Regions from separate parts of the Homo sapiens genome. Here region 2 is linked to region 1. Evidence: fine-mapped expression QTL. Tissue or cell type: esophagus muscle. Region 1 holds a variant in brackets; the other region holds the start of a gene. All regions are shown on one strand. Distances are between the middles of the regions.

Region 1 (8,215 bases):
GATTCGCTGACAGTGGACCAAGGAACATTTTCATAAGCCTCAGGCACAAAAGGAGGCACTGGGGGTGTGGCAGCAGATACCCCATGTGAGTGTGACTCTAGAAGGGTCTTGAGCCACCGCAGGGCATGTGTAGTTTGGCAATGGCAAGAACTTCCTTCAACCATGGATTGAGACATTTTCTGAACACCTTGATGGGAAGAGAATGCAGGGACTGGTATTGGGTGTTGGGCACTGGCTGAGGCCGGGAGGCCCCTGCGGTCTGTAATGTCCAGTTCTGGCGCCTTCTCCCACACTACTGCAGGGAGGCTGTGCTTCACCTGAGAGGCAGGTGAACAGTCTCTGGGAACACTTCCCAGCTGGTCCCTTTCCCCTGGATCAGGAAAGTGTTTCTCAAGATCTGGTTGCCTGACCACTGGCACAAGAGTGCCTTCGGGCTCTTAATAAAAATGTAGATGCTTGGGTCCTGCGCCAGGCCTGATGCAGTATATTCGAAGGCCACAGGGCCCAGGAATCCGCATTTTCAACCAGTTCTGAGGAGAATTCTGTGTGCTTTTCCCTTTGAGAAATCCTGCTGGCGCAGATCTGTCGAGGTAGTAAAAGGTCTCCCGGGGAGAGGCCTACTCTGGTCTTCCTTCAGGAACTGCTTCCCACAGCACCATGGTGGAGGCAGCTGTCAAGGGCTTCCCGTGCCTGCCTTTTGCAGGGAAAGGAGAGGGGCTGGGCAACCTACAGGTGCTGCCACATCCTGGAGTCCACACCTAAGGCACTGCCAGAGAGAAGAGGGGCTGTGCGTGCCCACTGGCTGGAGGCTGCTTTGTCACTTGCGGCTGACGGGTACCTCCCATGTCCCTAGCGGGTGGTGCTCTAGGCTTCCCCTGTAGCTTCCTCTGAAGCTGCTGGTTGGGGGCTCTAGACCCCGCAGCGTGCCAGCTCCCCGGAGAGGGCATCTCACTCTGACCCCCGACTAGGGAGGAAGCTGGGGGCTTGCTGATGTCACTTCTCAAACCCGCTTCAAGAGAGCTCATTAATCAGCCAGCTTGATATGCCATCTCCCCTCCGTCCCGCCTCCAAGGTTACTCAGTTCCCGGTCTATTTCAAGGCCAGACGTCAGCAGAAAAGGGGTGGAGCCAGCTGGGCCTGTGCAGCCCTCTCTGCAGGGCACCCGTGTTCTGGGCACCTGACTTCCCTCCCTTGCTTCCTCCAGCTCCTGCTGGAGCGTTCCCACTGCCATTGCTCTTCCTGCGCCGAGAGCATGGACCGAGGAAGGGAAGATGCCGAGAGCATCTCAAGTGATCGCCTGGCACCTCTCCTTGAGTGACGCACAAGCTCCGGGCAACAGAGGGCGATGGCACTGCCTCCTCCTGTTCCCAGGGCAGGGCGGGGGATTGACAGCTAGACTCTGGGCACCAAAAGCCATCAGATGCCAGCTGGTTACTGGAGACGCAAGCGGCCTCATGGGTTCCGAGGCCCATGGGCACACACATCACCACCAATGAATGTTCTGAGCAGTTCAATTCCTGGCAGAATCAGGTGGTTGGAGGTGTGGGTGTTTTTTCCCAAGGGAGCTGAGGGGCTAGATTGATGGCTCAGAGGGTCCCCCATCCTCTGTCACTTGCGACACAGCCCACCTGTTCCTCTCACGCTCTCTTGTTCTTAGGACCTGTGAGGATCAAGTTGACCCCTAGCCTGGCCCCAACAGTGGTAGCCCAGCCCCCAGCAGTTATGTGGCCAAGCAAGACATGCCCCGGCCTTCTCACTGGTATAAGATAGTGGTATACTGTGACCCCGGCTAACCCAGACCCAGCCTCTCCAGGCACAGCCGTCGGGGAGAATAATGCCGTGCACCCATCCCCTCCCTCCTCCTTGACATCCAGCATAAATACTAAAAGAGCTGTTTTTGTAGAGAGATCTCAAAAACTAAAACATGAGAGCCAGTAAGCCACGCCTGTAGTGCCCAGAGGAGTTTTGGTCCTTGGATCTGTTAACTCGGCCGAGGAGAGCCGGGAAAAGAGGTTTTCATGCTCTTCAGAGCTGCCAAACCCTCTATAAGAGCCCTGCCTTTCCTCACAGTCCCTATTTTCTTCCTGCCGTGGGGAAGAAAGGCTTCTCTAGAGCCTGCCCTAGAAAGTGGGCATTCCTCGCTCTGTCTCCCATCAGGTTCCCCAGGAGGGCCTAGGATGGCCTTTTCCCTCCTCTGTCCGATAGGATGGGAATGAAATTCCCTGATCTCCCCCTACCCCTGTCTATACTCCTAGTTCAAAGGATCAAAGTCCCTTTTAAAAACCTCATCATGTTAGGAGTGTCCCGCCCCACGGCTCCATGACGAGGGACAGCCTGTCACAGCCCCCTCCCTGGTGTGCACACCCAGCGCCTCACAGCAGAACTGCCCCAGGGTCATGAAGGTTTTCTGTGTCAACCCTGATTTTAGGGCAGTCTGATTGCCATCTCCCTGCTTAAAACCCCACAGAAGCTCCTCTCCAGAAAGCAAAGTCTAAACTCCCTCACGTGGCATGGTCTGCCCCAGTCTCCTGGAGCCTTCTCTCTCCCCCAGACACCCCCCCACCCCACCCCGCCAGTGTCATCCCCAGACGTCGAGTGCTGTCACGGCCTGGCCCACCACGTGCCTGTGCCTTGCTTTGGAGTCAGAGGAGCGTTCGTCTAGTCCACACTGAGCTCAGGACCCCTCTTCCCTCACCCCCTGCCATGGCATTAATTGGGCTTTTATGATTATTCCGTTCCTTGACCTCATTGTGAGCTCCTTCAGGGCACGGGCTGCGTCTCGTTCACCTTTCCGTCTAGAGCCAGCATGGCCCATCGCAGCGTGGTTGCTCCCTGAAGGTTGCAATGAGGGAAACTGCTTACAGGTGGACGCCACTGCTGGGCCTGTGGCGGGGCTTTGGCACACAACCCTCCCCTGGGCCTTAGCCTGCTGATGGCCAGAGCCCACCACAGCTAGTGGCTGCTGCTTCTGCAAGACAGACTCCATGCACAGCCAGCCCCTCCTTTCCCAGTGGGCGGGTCATCCTCTGGTCCTCGCTGCCAGGACAAGCTTCCCCTCCGCAAGTGCCAGAGCACTTCTGTCTTTGGGGGGCAGAAGTAGAAGGGAGCAGCTGGAATCCGTCCACTGCCGTGAAGTCACAGACAGCTCGTCACCCGTCTCTTTCTCCAGCACCACCAATTTGCATCTGAAATTCGGACAGTGACGGATTAGAGTAGGCGCCAGCTCCACAGACAGGTCTGTTCCTCACGTCCCACAGCTTTGCGCACACATGCCCTCTGCCCCACCCCAGCTCCTCACGTAACATCCGTAAAGCTCTCCTAGGTCAAGGTCAGAACCCATGGTCTTTTCACCTGGATGTGCAGGTGCTAGATTCCGTGGTCCTCCGTCAGGCTTGTGAAGAGCCGGGCTGTCCTCTATAAACCCTGATGGCTCATAATCATTAGGCAAATGACTGTGTGGGTTTTCCACAATATTTATCTTCCCCTTCCCCCTAAACCACAAGGGTTGCAGCTCTGGCATCAAATACTTGGAACTCTGCCCACCATCGGGTACCATCTGGCTTTTCAGCCGAGAAAGAGCCCACACAGGCAGGCAGCTTGTCCTCCAATGAGAGGCCAGGCCAAGGCCACTGGGCCAGCCCAGTCCTGCCCTGAAGGCGCCAGCCTTGAGGGGGCCACAGAGTGGATGGCAGAGGAGACAGCCCTTCCATCAGGATGTAAGCAAAGGAGACAGTTGAGTGCTCTAAAGAGGAACTGGGTGCTCTAAAGAGGGACTGGGCTTTGACTGAAGATGACCTGTTTCGAATCCCTGCCACATCTAAGCAGTGTGAGGTTTGGGACAAATGAATCCCTCTCAACCTGTTTCCTACCAAGTGGAGACAGTCACCAAGGTGCAGGTGTCTGCAGGGAGGAGCTCTCCTTGGAAGATGCCATCCTGCCTGGGCACTCTGGTAGTGCCTGGCAGTGCCAGTCCACTTGCTGGTTCTGAGCCTCGTCTTCCCTGCCCCGGGGCAGAGCCTTCTCTGGAATGACAGACATCAGTCTCAGGTGTCTCGGGAAGCTTGGAGAGCTTGGGAAGGGCTCCAGGTAGAGAAGGGTGTCATGTTCAGGGGCTGAGCTCTTGCCACCAGCATCCCCTCAGTGTGAGCTTAATACCAGCTCCCAGCTAGAAGCTTGGAGACAACAGGCGGGGTATTACCAGGTGTGTGGACTCATCCTGGTTCCAAAGGTGGGTGGAGTTTGCTGCCTGGGGGCCACAGCGTGTGTTCTGGGCAGACACAGGCTCCCTCCTGCAGCGGCCACAGTGCATGGACAGTTTTCTGGCAGGTCAAAGCCAGGCTGCGCATCCGGTGCTGCAGGAGCCCCCAGTGGGTCATGGCATTAGGTTCCCTCCCAGGTGGCACCTTCCCCCACATGCCTCCCACGCACGGGCTCCTATGAGCCGCACTCTGCCTGATAGGAAGTTTCTGACGTTCCTTTTTCACCATCAAGGGGTTAGGGAGAAGATGCTCATTTTGTTGCCTCCCAGAGCTCCGGTAAAGATAGGTTACAAACCTCAGGTCCCTAACTAAGAAATTGAGCATGTCATTTACGTAGGGGTACGGGGTATTCAGAGGAGGTGGTTCAGAAAAGGAAGTATATGGGTTTTTCTTGGCTCTGTTTCCACTTGCCTTGAAAAGGGGGAAGCAGAGGTTTGAGGAAGGGACCTGGGGAGGTTTTCGGCTGTCAAACATTCAAAGACGGTCCTTCAGCCAGTGTTTGGGGAGTAACAGCAAACCCAAGAACTGCCTTCCAGACGCCTCTGGTTGTCTCCTCACTGACAGGGCTGAGCCTCAGAGCAGCCTCCCCCAGGCTCCTCAGGAGTCGTGAGCGGTGCCACAGTGGCTCTGGACTGTCCCTCCCGTGCTGTCCAGCTCTCCCTGTCTTTCTCGGAGCCCGCACAGGGGAGTCCAGGCAGCTCTCGTCCCATGCAGCCTGCGTCACAGCTGCCATGGGATGGCCAGACTCCTGGAGCGGGTGCTGCTTCGGTTCTGTGCGGGAAGCTCTCACGCAGCCCCTTCATGCCGCCTCTTTCCCAGCCACAGGCTAACAT[C/T]GCATCCTGGGAGGTGGTGTTCTGGACCTGCAATAGCTCAGGCAGGCGGTGGACCAGGGCTGCTTGAGAGCCCTGGCCCCCCAGGTCCAAGGGGGCAACGTTGCATAAAAGAGAGCATCCATCCACCTTTCCCCTGGTTTCTTTCTCCCTGAAATCATTCTTCCAGGTTCCCCAGCATCAGAGTCGAATAACATTTTCACAAGTATCTGAGCAGAGGTAGCGCAGGTGCCCCACTGTTGGCCAGTCTGTACCTGTACCGAGAATGTGCCCAGAGTTCATCTTTATCTCCGCTAGCTGGGCGAAGGGACGGGTCTTTCCTCCCGACCAGCCCCTGGTTGCTGAGCTCCTGCTGCGAGGATTTGGTTTCTTTCCTCTGCTTTCTAGCTTGGTGGCCGCTTTGGAACACGCTGCTGGGACCTTCACTTTTGGCTCATGATTGCCTCTGCCTGGAGGCTCAGTGTCCTCCCGTCTTTGAGAAGAGCTGTAGATCTTCCGTCTCTCCACTCACGCATTCAGAACGAGGCTGCCAGCTTGGCGTGAGCAGCCATGGTTTTTTACTGAAGATAATGGTGACCTAGTGACAAGGTGCATAGAGCTGGCCTCTAATGCACAGGGGGCACCCACTTCTTTAGAGTCATCTAGGCATCAACCGTCAGTTCTGTCTTCGGTCATCATGTGAATCTTTCAAACTTGGAGTCTATTCAGTAGGCATCTCCCAAGGACCTTCTAGTTGAGGGGTTTGGGAAGATCAGGGGGAGCCAAGGACAAAGGGCCATGCTAACTTGTTCAAAAAGTGCGTTATGGCAGGTGTTGGGCTAACACTAATCACTGCTGCAGAGAGGGACGTGCACTGAGGGAGGCAGCCAGCCTCCGCCTGTCCTCATCTCTCACTCTGCACCAGGTACACAGTATTTGAGAATTGGTGGGGGCAAGATTGGCACTGTCTGTCATGCTTGCGTTGGTGTCTAGAACCCGACAGCCTGTCCTGGCACAAATCCCATCCCCTCCCAGTCTCTGGGTCAGCCCATTCCTGGGCTGGTCTTCAGGAGGGGCGCTGCTCACCCTCTGCCCTGTCGAGAACATTTTAGGAAGCTCATCCTTATATAGTTCCTTGTGAAAGTGCAATCATCCGCAGAATTCGGACGACCTCCTCTAGATGGCATGGTGCCTCTCATCACAGAGTTTTGGCAAATAAGCTGTGACAGTGGTTCATGGGATTTGGTGCACACAGGCTGCCGGCATGGTTTCTGACACGGCTCCTGCTCTCTTTCTCTGGCAGACGTCTTCCGCATGGTGAATGATCCTTTGTGTTTGGTCGGGAAGAACTTGGACTGTCTTAAAGAGCATTTGTACTGTAGTTGAACTTGAGTGGAGGTCATGGAAGTCAAATAAGAATAGTACTGGGGCTGGGCACCGTGGCTTACGCCTGGAATCCTAGCACTTTGGGAGGCCAAGGAAGGCAGATTGCTTGAGCTCAGGAGTTTGAAACCAGCCTGGGCAATATGGTAAGACCCTGTCTCTACAAAAAATACAAAAATTAGCGAGGCGTGGTGGCACACGCCTGTAGTCTCAGCTATTCAAGAGGCTGAGGTGGGAGGATTGCTTGAGCCTGGGAGGTCAAGGCTGCAGTGAATCATGATCACACTACTGCACTCCAGCCTGGGCAACAGAGCGAGACCTTGTCTGAAGAAACCAAAAAAAAACAAACAAAAAAATGCATTTGGACCATAGTTGAACTTGGGTGGACCTCATGGAAGTCAAATAAGAATAGTAGAATAGTACTGGGGGCCAGGCTGGCCAGGCATGGTGGCTCAGGCCTGTAATTCCAGCATTTTGGGAGGCCAAGGCAGGCAGATCACTTGAGGTCAGGAGTTCATGACCAGCCTGGCCAACATGGTGAAATCTCATCTCTACTAAAAATACAAAAATTAGCAAAGCGTGGTGGCATATGCCTGTAGCCCCAGCTACCTGGGAGGCTGAGGCAGGACAATCACTTGAGCCTGGGAGGTGGAGGTTGCCGCGAGCCAAGATCACACCACTGCACTTTAGCCTGGGCAGCAGAGTGAGACTATCTCAAAAAAAGAAAAAAGAAAAGAATAGTATTGGGGCTAGGCATGGTGGCTCACGCCTGTAATCCTAGCACTTTGGGAGGCCAAGGCAGGAGGATCACTTGAGGCCAGGAGTTTGAGACCAGCCTGGACAATATAGTGAGACCCCCATCTCTGCAAAAAAAATAATAATAATAATAATTAATTAGCAGAATGTGGTGGCATGCATTTGTAGTCGTAGCTACTCAGGAGGCTTAGGCGGGCAGATCGCTTGAGCCTAGGAGTTCGGGGCTGCAGTGAGCTATGATCGCACCACTGCACTCCAGCCTGGGTGACAGTGCCTCAAAAAAAAAAAAATAGCATTGACTTAACATTCTTTGGTTGGAGCTCCTTGCTTGGCTTCAGGAGTGCTGCGTTCCCCCACCGAGATGTTTGGACAGGAGTGATGACTTGGTGTGTGCTGACACAGGGGGTCAGGAAGCCACGCTCATGTCTGTTGAGTGTCTTCTGTGCACACGCAGCATGCTTTGAGGGGTTCAGGAACTTGAAAGCTCTCGCAGTTAGAAGGGACATCAGGATGCAAATCCTGCCCTAGCCACGTGACCCTGAAGCCTGTGGTCCTTCAGCTGACCCACACTGCCTCAGAACTCACCTTCGTGTGGGTGAATCCCCAGATACTGTAATTCAAGTTGAGAAAATAAAAACTTCCAAACCAAAACGTTCACAGCCACTTGAGAAATAAAAATAGAATCCTTGAACGTTTCTTCACTACACTTCAAGGACGTGTTGAAAGTTCACTTCCCATTTAGGGACGGGCTCATGCTGAGTTGCCATTAACCCCAATTAACTCTTAACCCCTTGTGCCCACCAAGAGCAGCCCTGGAGTCTGGGGGATCCTTTCTTTTATCGCTTGAAATAACCTCCAGGATCAGGGAGCTCGGCTGTGCGATTTGTGCGCTCCGCCTCCACCCAGATGAGCCCCCCTGCGCCCTCCTCACTCCAAGCCCGAGTGCTCCGTGGTCAGCTCCCACAGGTCTCTGTGCGTTTAAGGTAGCCCTATTCAACCTTTCAAGGC
Region 2 (8,005 bases), 51 kb after region 1:
GGCCAGTCCTCCTCATAGTCTAAACCGGATCTTCCATCTGTCTCTCACCAGGGCCTGTGCTACTGGTCAGTGTGCCCTGCTTGCCATGGGGCCAGCCCCAAGGGCCCTCCTCTGCATGGTTCTGCCTGGCACAGAGCCCCCTCCTCCTGGGCACTGGACGTCACTACAGCCCTTCCTTCTGTGGCCTCAGCTAGTAGCAGCTCTTCCGCAGCAGGGTGCAACAGCACTGACTTGTTCAGAGCTCAGGGGTACCGGAAAACCCAAGCTGGTGAGCTGGGGTTTGGTCTTGTTACACATGAGCTGGTGAGCTGGCCTCTCGGGCCATCACTGGCGTGCAGGATCTTTTGAACCCAACCCAGGGGCCTGACACGTATCCTTGCTAAATGTCATTATTTTGGATTGGGACCAAGAGCCACAGCAGTGAGGGTAACACAAAGCCTGAGTGGAGTGGTGCCCACGGATGTCACTCTCCCTCCCAGCTGGCCATCGGCCATGGCACTGCCATCTCTCCCATCTTCATCACATCCCCAGCAAAACTTCTGAGCAGGGAAGAGCTAAAGGGTGGACAGGGTGAGCCTGCCACTCCAGCCCTCCCGCCTCCCCCAGGATCTGCACATCTCTGCTACAGAAATGCTCACGAAAATCAAGCAGTTGCCAGAAACCACGCCTCCGAAAGACAGATGCCCTTCAGGGATGGGGCCCGAGACAACTGCTGGGCAGGCTCCAGCTTTCTCACAGGGCCTTCCTTTTGCCTGCCACCAAATTTCTCTCTCTCTCTTTTTTTTTTTTTTTGAGACAGAGTCTTGCTCTGTCACCCAGACTGGAGTGCAGTGGTGCGATCTCGGCTCACTGCAAGCTCCACCTCCCGGGTTCATGCCATCCTCCTGCCTCGGCCTCCCAAGTAGCTGGGACTACAGGCGCCCACCACCATGCCCGGCTAATTTTTTGTATTTTTTAGTACAGATAGGGTTTCACCGTGTTAGCCAGGATGGTCTCGATCTCCTGACCTCATGATCTGCCCACCTCGGCCTCCCAAAGTGCTGGGATTACAGGCGTCAGCCACCACACCCAGCTATCTCTCTCTTTTTTTTTAATCCAAAGCCTAATGTCTTACAGACATATGGGCCTTCTTGTATCTCTAGTTCTCTCTAAGGAATCCAGAGAGCGGGGAAGTGCAAGAGGCTACCAGGAACATTCAGGAAAGTTCCTCTTCTCCCCAGGGTGGCACTGAAAGGATCCCTCCAGGGAACCCACTAAACCAACTTTAGTGTAGAAACATCAATTGGCCCGTGTGTGCTGAGCCCCTTCCCTGCAGCAGGCGCTGGATGGTGGAATGTCCCTATGGGTGAGACATGGTCCCTGCCCTCCAGGAACTTAGAGTCAAATCTGCAGAATGAGCATGCTGCTGTTAGCACCTCCAACCTCCTTTTTTCTAAATATATTTCTCTTTCCAACCTTCTCTCCCTACTTCCCTCAAACTCCCCAGCCTCCCCGTCAAGATCTTCTCTTAGCTAAGCATCTAGAGCTCATTCACAGGAAGGTATGAGGGACTGATCATAGCTGAAAGGGTTCTCATTCCCAAGAGAGATGTAGTTTAACCACAATCAGAGCCTTAAGCTAAAGTGCCAGGTGGTAGAATTTCAGGCCAAGAAGACAAGAGTTTTGGCAAGGAAGGGAATATTGCTCTCATGGTGGCGCCCTTGAAATCTTCCCATGTGTACGGTTCCCTAGTACAGTGACACAGAAGTGACAGAAGTGACAGAACTGACAGCCCAGAGACATGTTTGAGTCTGGCAAGGGATCGATCCTAGCCATGCCATGCCATGCCTCAGCTGCCACCACCAATCAGGGATGTCAGATCTCAACCACAAAGGACACTGACATGCTTGTCGCTCCCCTTGCACGGCCTCTGTCTGCTCACCTCTGCCCACACCTCCAGGTCCTAGAGGTTCCTTGCCCTCTGGGGAGCCCCAAACCTCCTACTACCCCTGCCTCCCAGTAATGAGCTCTAGATCTGTGCTGCCCAGTATAGGAGCCGCCAGTCATACACGACTATTGGGTACCAGAAACATCTCTCACCCAAACGGAGTTTGCTATCAGTGTAAAATTTCATGCCACACTGCACATTGAAGACAACAGGGAAAAAGAATGTAAAAAATCTCGTAAACACTTGTATCTTGATTACATGTTGAAATAATAACATTTGGGGTATGTTTAGTCAAAGAAAATATACTATTAAAATTAACGTCACCTGTTTCTATTTGTTTTAATGTGGTTACTAGAAAATTTTAAATTGTACTTGTGGCTCCCATTTTATTTCTTTGGACAGTGTGACCCTGGATGAAGGGCCCAGGCTCTCCCTCAACTGCAAAGGGGCAGAATAAGCAGTCTGCCATTAGCATCTCCAACCTCCTTTTTCTAAATGTATTTCTCTTTCCAACTCCCTACTCCCCTCAAGCTTCCACCCTCCCCAGTCAAGACCTTTTCTTAGCCAAGGACCTAGAGCTCATTCACATGAAGGAATAAGGGTCTGGTAATAGCTGAAAATGTTCTCATTCCCACTCTCTCCAATAGGAAGACATCCTCATGGGCTGGGGACACCAGAGACTCTCTCCAAAGGGAAGGTGTCCTGCTGGGTTGGGGGTTGGGGGTCGGGGGGTGGGGGAGTTGAGGCAGGTTGTACCTCTAATCAAGGGGCCTAAAATGGGGGAGGGATCCCAGAATACCTCCAGAGCCAGGGGCCAAAACTAGGTAAGTCCCTGGGCTCCAAATAGCAAGGGGCAGACTCAAGGAGCTTCCGAATTCTGTCTCATCACCCCGTCTAACCCAGCCACCCTACAGAGGTAGGAGGGACAAACTCCACTTTCCCCCGCCACAATCTCCTCCCTTGCCTCCCCCTCCCCACCTCCCACCTACCCACCCCCGCCAGCCCCACTGCACTGCTGAAGCCTTCCTCCAGCCACTGCTCCCTCCTCACACAGGACAGCTACACCCTGGTGCCCACAAATGAAGTCCAGACAGCTTAGTCCCATAGACAGAGCCCTCTGCACCCTGACCGCAACCAACCGTCCTCCCATCCCTGGAACCCACAGCTCTGCCAGTCTGCTGGCCAAACAGCCCCATTCTGCCCTCATCTCCAGGCCTCGTTCCAGCATCCCCCAGGCTGGAATGTCCTCATCCCAACAGAAGTCTACTCTCCTTCAGGGCCCAGCTGAAATCCCTCTCCCACAGGCACCTGCCTTGATGCCTCAGGCTCTAGGCGCAGGGACTGCGGCCAGGCTGGGGCACCTGCCCTTCTTCCCCCTGCCCTGGCTTCCCCTCCTGGGTGGGGAGCTCTGTGTAGTGGTCCCCTCCACCCCTCCATTCTGCCCTGCGGCAGGTGTGTGTGCACTCATTAACACCCTGCCCCACACTGGACTGCGGGCTCCTTGAGGGCAGACACATTGTCTCAGAGACCTCTGCCCACCCACCCACTCAGGGTCTCACCCCTTCCACAAACAGCCCTTAAACTAATGTTTGACAAACACAGAGATCCCCAAAGAGCCCCAGAGAGGATGGCAGTGGTCAGTCCTGCAGGACACAGCAGCATCTAGAAGGGTCTGAGCACCTTCCCAGGCTGGGGGCCTTCTCCTTCCCGGGTCCTCACAGCTCAGCCAGACCCCCTGGCACGGACCTGCACACACATGCACACTCCCGCACTCATACCCGCTCACATCTGAGATACCGATGGCTCTCCCTCTCCCAGGCTAGGAAACTCTGTCGCAGGAGTCCTCCCCACCCACCAGCAGAACCCCCGGACCCCCTGCCCTTCCGGTGAGCCGCCCCTCCTTTGCCGTCGGGTTTCCCTCCCTCCCTTTTGCCCAGCCAAAACCCGAACCCAGGCGCCAGGGGAGAGGACCGCCGTTCTAGCTTGCCCCACTGCTGGGGGCACGGAGTTCTTGCTCCTCCAAGGCTACGGCCCCCGTCTCCGCGGACCCCGCCCGGACTCCCCCTGGCCACCGGGACGCCCCGCCCCCTCCCCTCCGCAGCAATCTCTTACACTCGGGCTGTGAAGTTCGGGGTATTTTTAGGCCGGCGATAAATAATTCATAGGGAACGTGGCATCAGGCTCCCCCCGCGGGAGGAGGGGGCGCGAGCAGCGAGAGCCACCGTCACCCGCGGCTCAAGGACACTCGCGATGCGGCGGCGGCGGCGGCGGCGGCGGCTCCGGGCGGGGACCCGCGCCACGCCTCCTGGCGGCCAAGCTGAGCACCACGCACCCGGCGCCCCCCGCCCCACGCTGCCCCCCGCCGGCGTCCGCGGCTCCGGGGCCCCCACCCCCACTCCCCCAAGCTGGGTCGTGACCCCGAGTCCCGCAGTGGGGGGACCAAGCCAGCCTGGCAGGCGGCCCCAGTACCATCCCAGGCCCGCCCGGGGGCCCTGGGCGAACCCAGGTGTCCCGGACCTGCCTACCTGCCCCTGGCACGCTCTTATTCTTCGGGAGTTTAGAAACAGGCTCAAAGTCACTAGCACCGCCAAGACCTGGACGGGCTCTGAAATACAGCCAGCGGAATGGTACCCTCCCCAAATAAGTGTCTTTCCTCGATTTTCCTGTGGCCCGGGGTCAGGGACTGAACTAAGATAACGCCACCATCCGAGGGCTGGGGGACCGAGCCAGAAGTCCCCTTGGACGACCAGGGCTGGGAAACCGAGTGGACGAATGGGGTGGGCATCAGGGCCTGGCGGGAATTCCCGTCTTGCTCACCCAGCAGCTCCTTGCAGGGTCGCGGGACGCACCTGGGGGTTCAGGTTGCCGGGTGCCTTTGCTCCGCGTGTCCCCGCCCTGCCCGCGTAGGCAGGAAACAGGAGACTCGGGGCTTCCCCTCCCCGCCGTCGGGGATCCTGGGCGAAGCCCCCAGAGACCGGCGCAGGCGGCTGGTGCGCAGCCAGGGCCCAGCGCCAGGTCTTGCTCGCCCAGTGCCCTCTCTGCCTACCCTTCCCTTTGCGCTCTGGAAGCCCGGGAGCCGGGCACGGGCCAGCATCTGCAAGATGCCACTACTCTGGAAGCCCACTCCGATTCTCCCAGGTCGCAGGAAGGAGAGAGCTAGGCTGGGGCAAAGGAGATGGGGCAGAGCTGGAAGGGGAAGAAGCGGGACTCGCGGCGGGGGAAGGGGTCTGGGCGCCGAGGCGAGTGCGCAGCAGGTGCCCAGCAGACCTAGGGAAACTGGGGCACTGGGCTGGGGAGCCGCACAGCCCCCTTTCACCTTCTCGACTCCTTTCCAACCCCTCGCTCTGGTGGATCCCAGCCCCGGCCCCCACTCCCGGCCCTGTTCCCCGCTCTCCGCCCCGGCGGCTTCCAGCAGCAACAGTTTGGGTCCGCGGCAGCCCAGACTCCCCTGGTCCCGCGGTGCTGCCGCGCCAAGCGAAGGAGGAGGAGGGCTCGGCGACCCTGGGGACGAACGTCTTGGACGCTTCGCCCGCGTCCTTCTCTCGCGTCCGCCGCGCGCCTGTCTGCTCGGCCTCTTCTTCGCCTTCTCTCCGGCCGCCCGGGTCAAAACCCAAGGCCAGGTTCTTGAGGGTCCGGGTCCTCCAGCCGCCCCCTCCTTGAGCCCCGAGAGTCCTGCGTGGGTCCAACCCCCCGGGTGTCCCGCCTCTGTCTCCGCCGTCCTTGCTCGCGCGCCGCGGGAACCCAGCCCCAAGTTGGCGGCGAAGTTGGTGCCCCTCGCCCGCCGCTCGCCACTTACCGAGGGGAAGGGGCGCTGCGCCCGCGACGAGAGCCCGCGCCGGCCGCCTCCCTCGCGGTGTCTGTCCCAGAGCCTCGGCCCCGGAGGGCTGGCGCGCTCAGTCTCAGCTCCGCGGGCGCCGGAGCCCGGGCGCGGCGGGGCGGGGGCGGGGGCGGGTGGCGCGGCCTGGTCCGCTGGCCCCGACCCGCCCCTGCGCCCCGCGACCCTCCCGAAGCTCGCACGGCGCCCGGCTCCGTCCCGGGCTGGGCTGCGCACCGCGCCTCCTGCTCCCAGAGCTCGCAGCCGACTGTGCGGGAGCTCTCACCGCCGCCCGCGAGGGCCCGCCCCGCCGGGGCCCGCCACCTCCGCCCCGGCCCGGCCCGGCCCGCTGCCCCTCGAGGCCCCTCCCGCCGCATTCCCGGGCCCCTCTCCCCTCTCCGGAACCGCGTCCCCAGACCTGACACTCGGGGCAAGTGCGCCTCGGAGGACACACCAGCCTGCCCGGAGCCTGGGTTTGAGCCCGCAGCTCACGAGTGTGTGACCTTGGGCCAATTTCGAGGACCCCTCAGGTTATACAGCGAGGCAGCATCTTGAGGGCTGCCATAAAAGGGAGTGACCACTCTCTGGACACTGCAAAGCCCTAGGGAGACTGAGGCACTATTTTTAAAGGCCAGTGTGTCTGACTGGAAACGGAAGCAGGAAGGCTTTGAGAGCCAAAGAATGGGCCCCAGGCTAGACTCGCCTGGGGCACCCAGAGGTACAGGGGACAAGCTGCTTCTCAGTCCCCCGCTCCCATTTCTTTTCTGTTTTGATTGTACTGAGGGCTCCCCAGGGAGGGGTGGTCCCGGTCCCGGTCCCGGGCAGCCCTAGTGTGGACAGAAGACAGGCAACCCGCAGCCACAGCAGGGCCGAGCGGAGAAAGGAAGGGTGGCTATGCCAGGCCTGGCTGCCGAGCCCCATCAAGCCCCCAATGAGGCCCCTGAGCAGGGAGCCGTCTCTGCAGCGCCACCTGGTGATGGTAGGGGAGCTACGGCCAGAAGGTGACCCCCGACCCCAACCCTTCCAAAAAAAGTCCCCCATCAACCATGGCTCTTGGTTGCAGCTGTTTTATTTCCAGCATGTTCCCAACCTGGTGACCCTCCACAGTCCAGCAGTAGAGAGATGGGTAAGGGGTTAGATCGGCCCACACCTCCACCTGTCCCTAAGGTTACCTCAGTTGCTGAAAGCTAAAACCTTGCGCGCAAGGGCGACCTTCCCCAGGAGGGAGGAGAGACGCTGGAAGAGCAGCCAAGCCTCCAAGCCAGGGCCGGCCGGGATCAGCAGAGGTGCAAAGTCCCACTCAGACGGACCCAGCCCTTCCCCTCCCAACACTCATCCCTTCCCTGCTGGGGGCCGGGGCTGGGGCTGGGCTCAGTGGCCCAGGAGGCGCAGCATCTCCTGAGGATCCACCAGCTTCTCCCTGGGCTTCCCCGTGCCCTGGCCCCGGGCCACCTCCTCGGCATCCAGCTTCTCCCAGTCTGAGAAAGAGACTGGCCGGACCCCTGAAGCAGAGGGGAGATTGTCAACACCTCCTCCTTCACCCCTCCCAGAACAGCCCCCTCCCAAAGAGTGAGGCCCAGAGAAGGACCACCCACCCCACCTCCCAGGACCTCAGCATCGGGGCCCAGACCTCGGCTGCTGAGCAGGGCCTGGATGGCTGCGTAGCCAGGCCTGGGGCCAGAGGGGAGCAACCCAGCCTTCAGGTCCTGCAGCAGCATCTGGCCGGTGAGGAAGCTGTCAGTCATGGTTGTGGCTATGACACCTGTAGGTCCTCTCTTCACCCAGCCGCTGCAGTAGAGGCCTGAGAGGGGGTAACAAAAGGGGAAGGGAGGGAGGTGGCTGGATACCACCCTGGCCATCCTGTGCCCACAATCTACACCCACGTGCACGCACACAGACACCCCACGCCTCTTGGCAGACTGTCGGCTGAGCCTGCTGTGGCCGCTGGTCCACTGCCCTGGATTCTTCTCTCCCTGTTTTTACCAGGCCGACCCCCTTACACCTCAGTTTCCCTGTAGATGAGGGGATCCCTAAGCTTAGGAGCTGAGGCTTGCTCCCCTGCAGTTTCAGTAGGCCCTTGGTAAATGTTTACCAAGTGAATTAATCACTAGATAGGTATGTGGGCACTTAGTAAAACTGGAAGCTCCCTGAGGACACAGGCTGCCTTATTAATCTCCAATCCCAGCACTAAGCACAGGGCCTAACCCAGAAAAGACCTCAGTAAACGTTTGTTGAATGACTTAATGACCCGACGTATGTCACAT

Alleles and levels. Alleles are on the strand shown, and positions count from the first base shown. SD is a standard deviation of normalised expression in the study named.
With allele T in place of C in region 1, the expression in esophagus muscle of the gene that starts at base 4,181 in region 2 is lower (moderate effect, 0.65 SD a copy in GTEx).

Evidence for each region. PIP is the estimated chance that this variant, and not a neighbour inherited with it, causes the effect.
Region 2: it holds the start of GRIN2C, and the variant in region 1 is fine-mapped to the expression of GRIN2C in esophagus muscle (GTEx, PIP above 0.99). The same link has a PIP of 0.9 or more in gastroesophageal junction, prostate, sigmoid colon, tibial nerve and transverse colon.

Annotation. Positions count from the first base shown.
Region 1 is chr17:74,804,552-74,812,766 of GRCh38, forward strand. The region is part of intron 8 of SLC38A12 (solute carrier family 38 member 12); the gene reads left to right. Among named protein-coding and RNA genes, the nearest start is that of SLC38A12, 32 kb to the left of the region's middle. RefSeq lists an enhancer at 7,647-8,215. The variant C/T (reference allele first, on the strand shown) is at 5,093.
Region 2 is chr17:74,855,705-74,863,709 of GRCh38, forward strand. GRIN2C (glutamate ionotropic receptor NMDA type subunit 2C) reads right to left here and starts at 4,181. Exons shown (of 13, transcript NM_000835.6): 1 at 4,040-4,181. FDXR (ferredoxin reductase) reads right to left here. Exons shown (of 12, transcript NM_024417.5): 11 at 7,372-7,542; 12 at 6,793-7,243. The coding sequence ends at 7,113. RefSeq lists an enhancer at 5,008-5,706.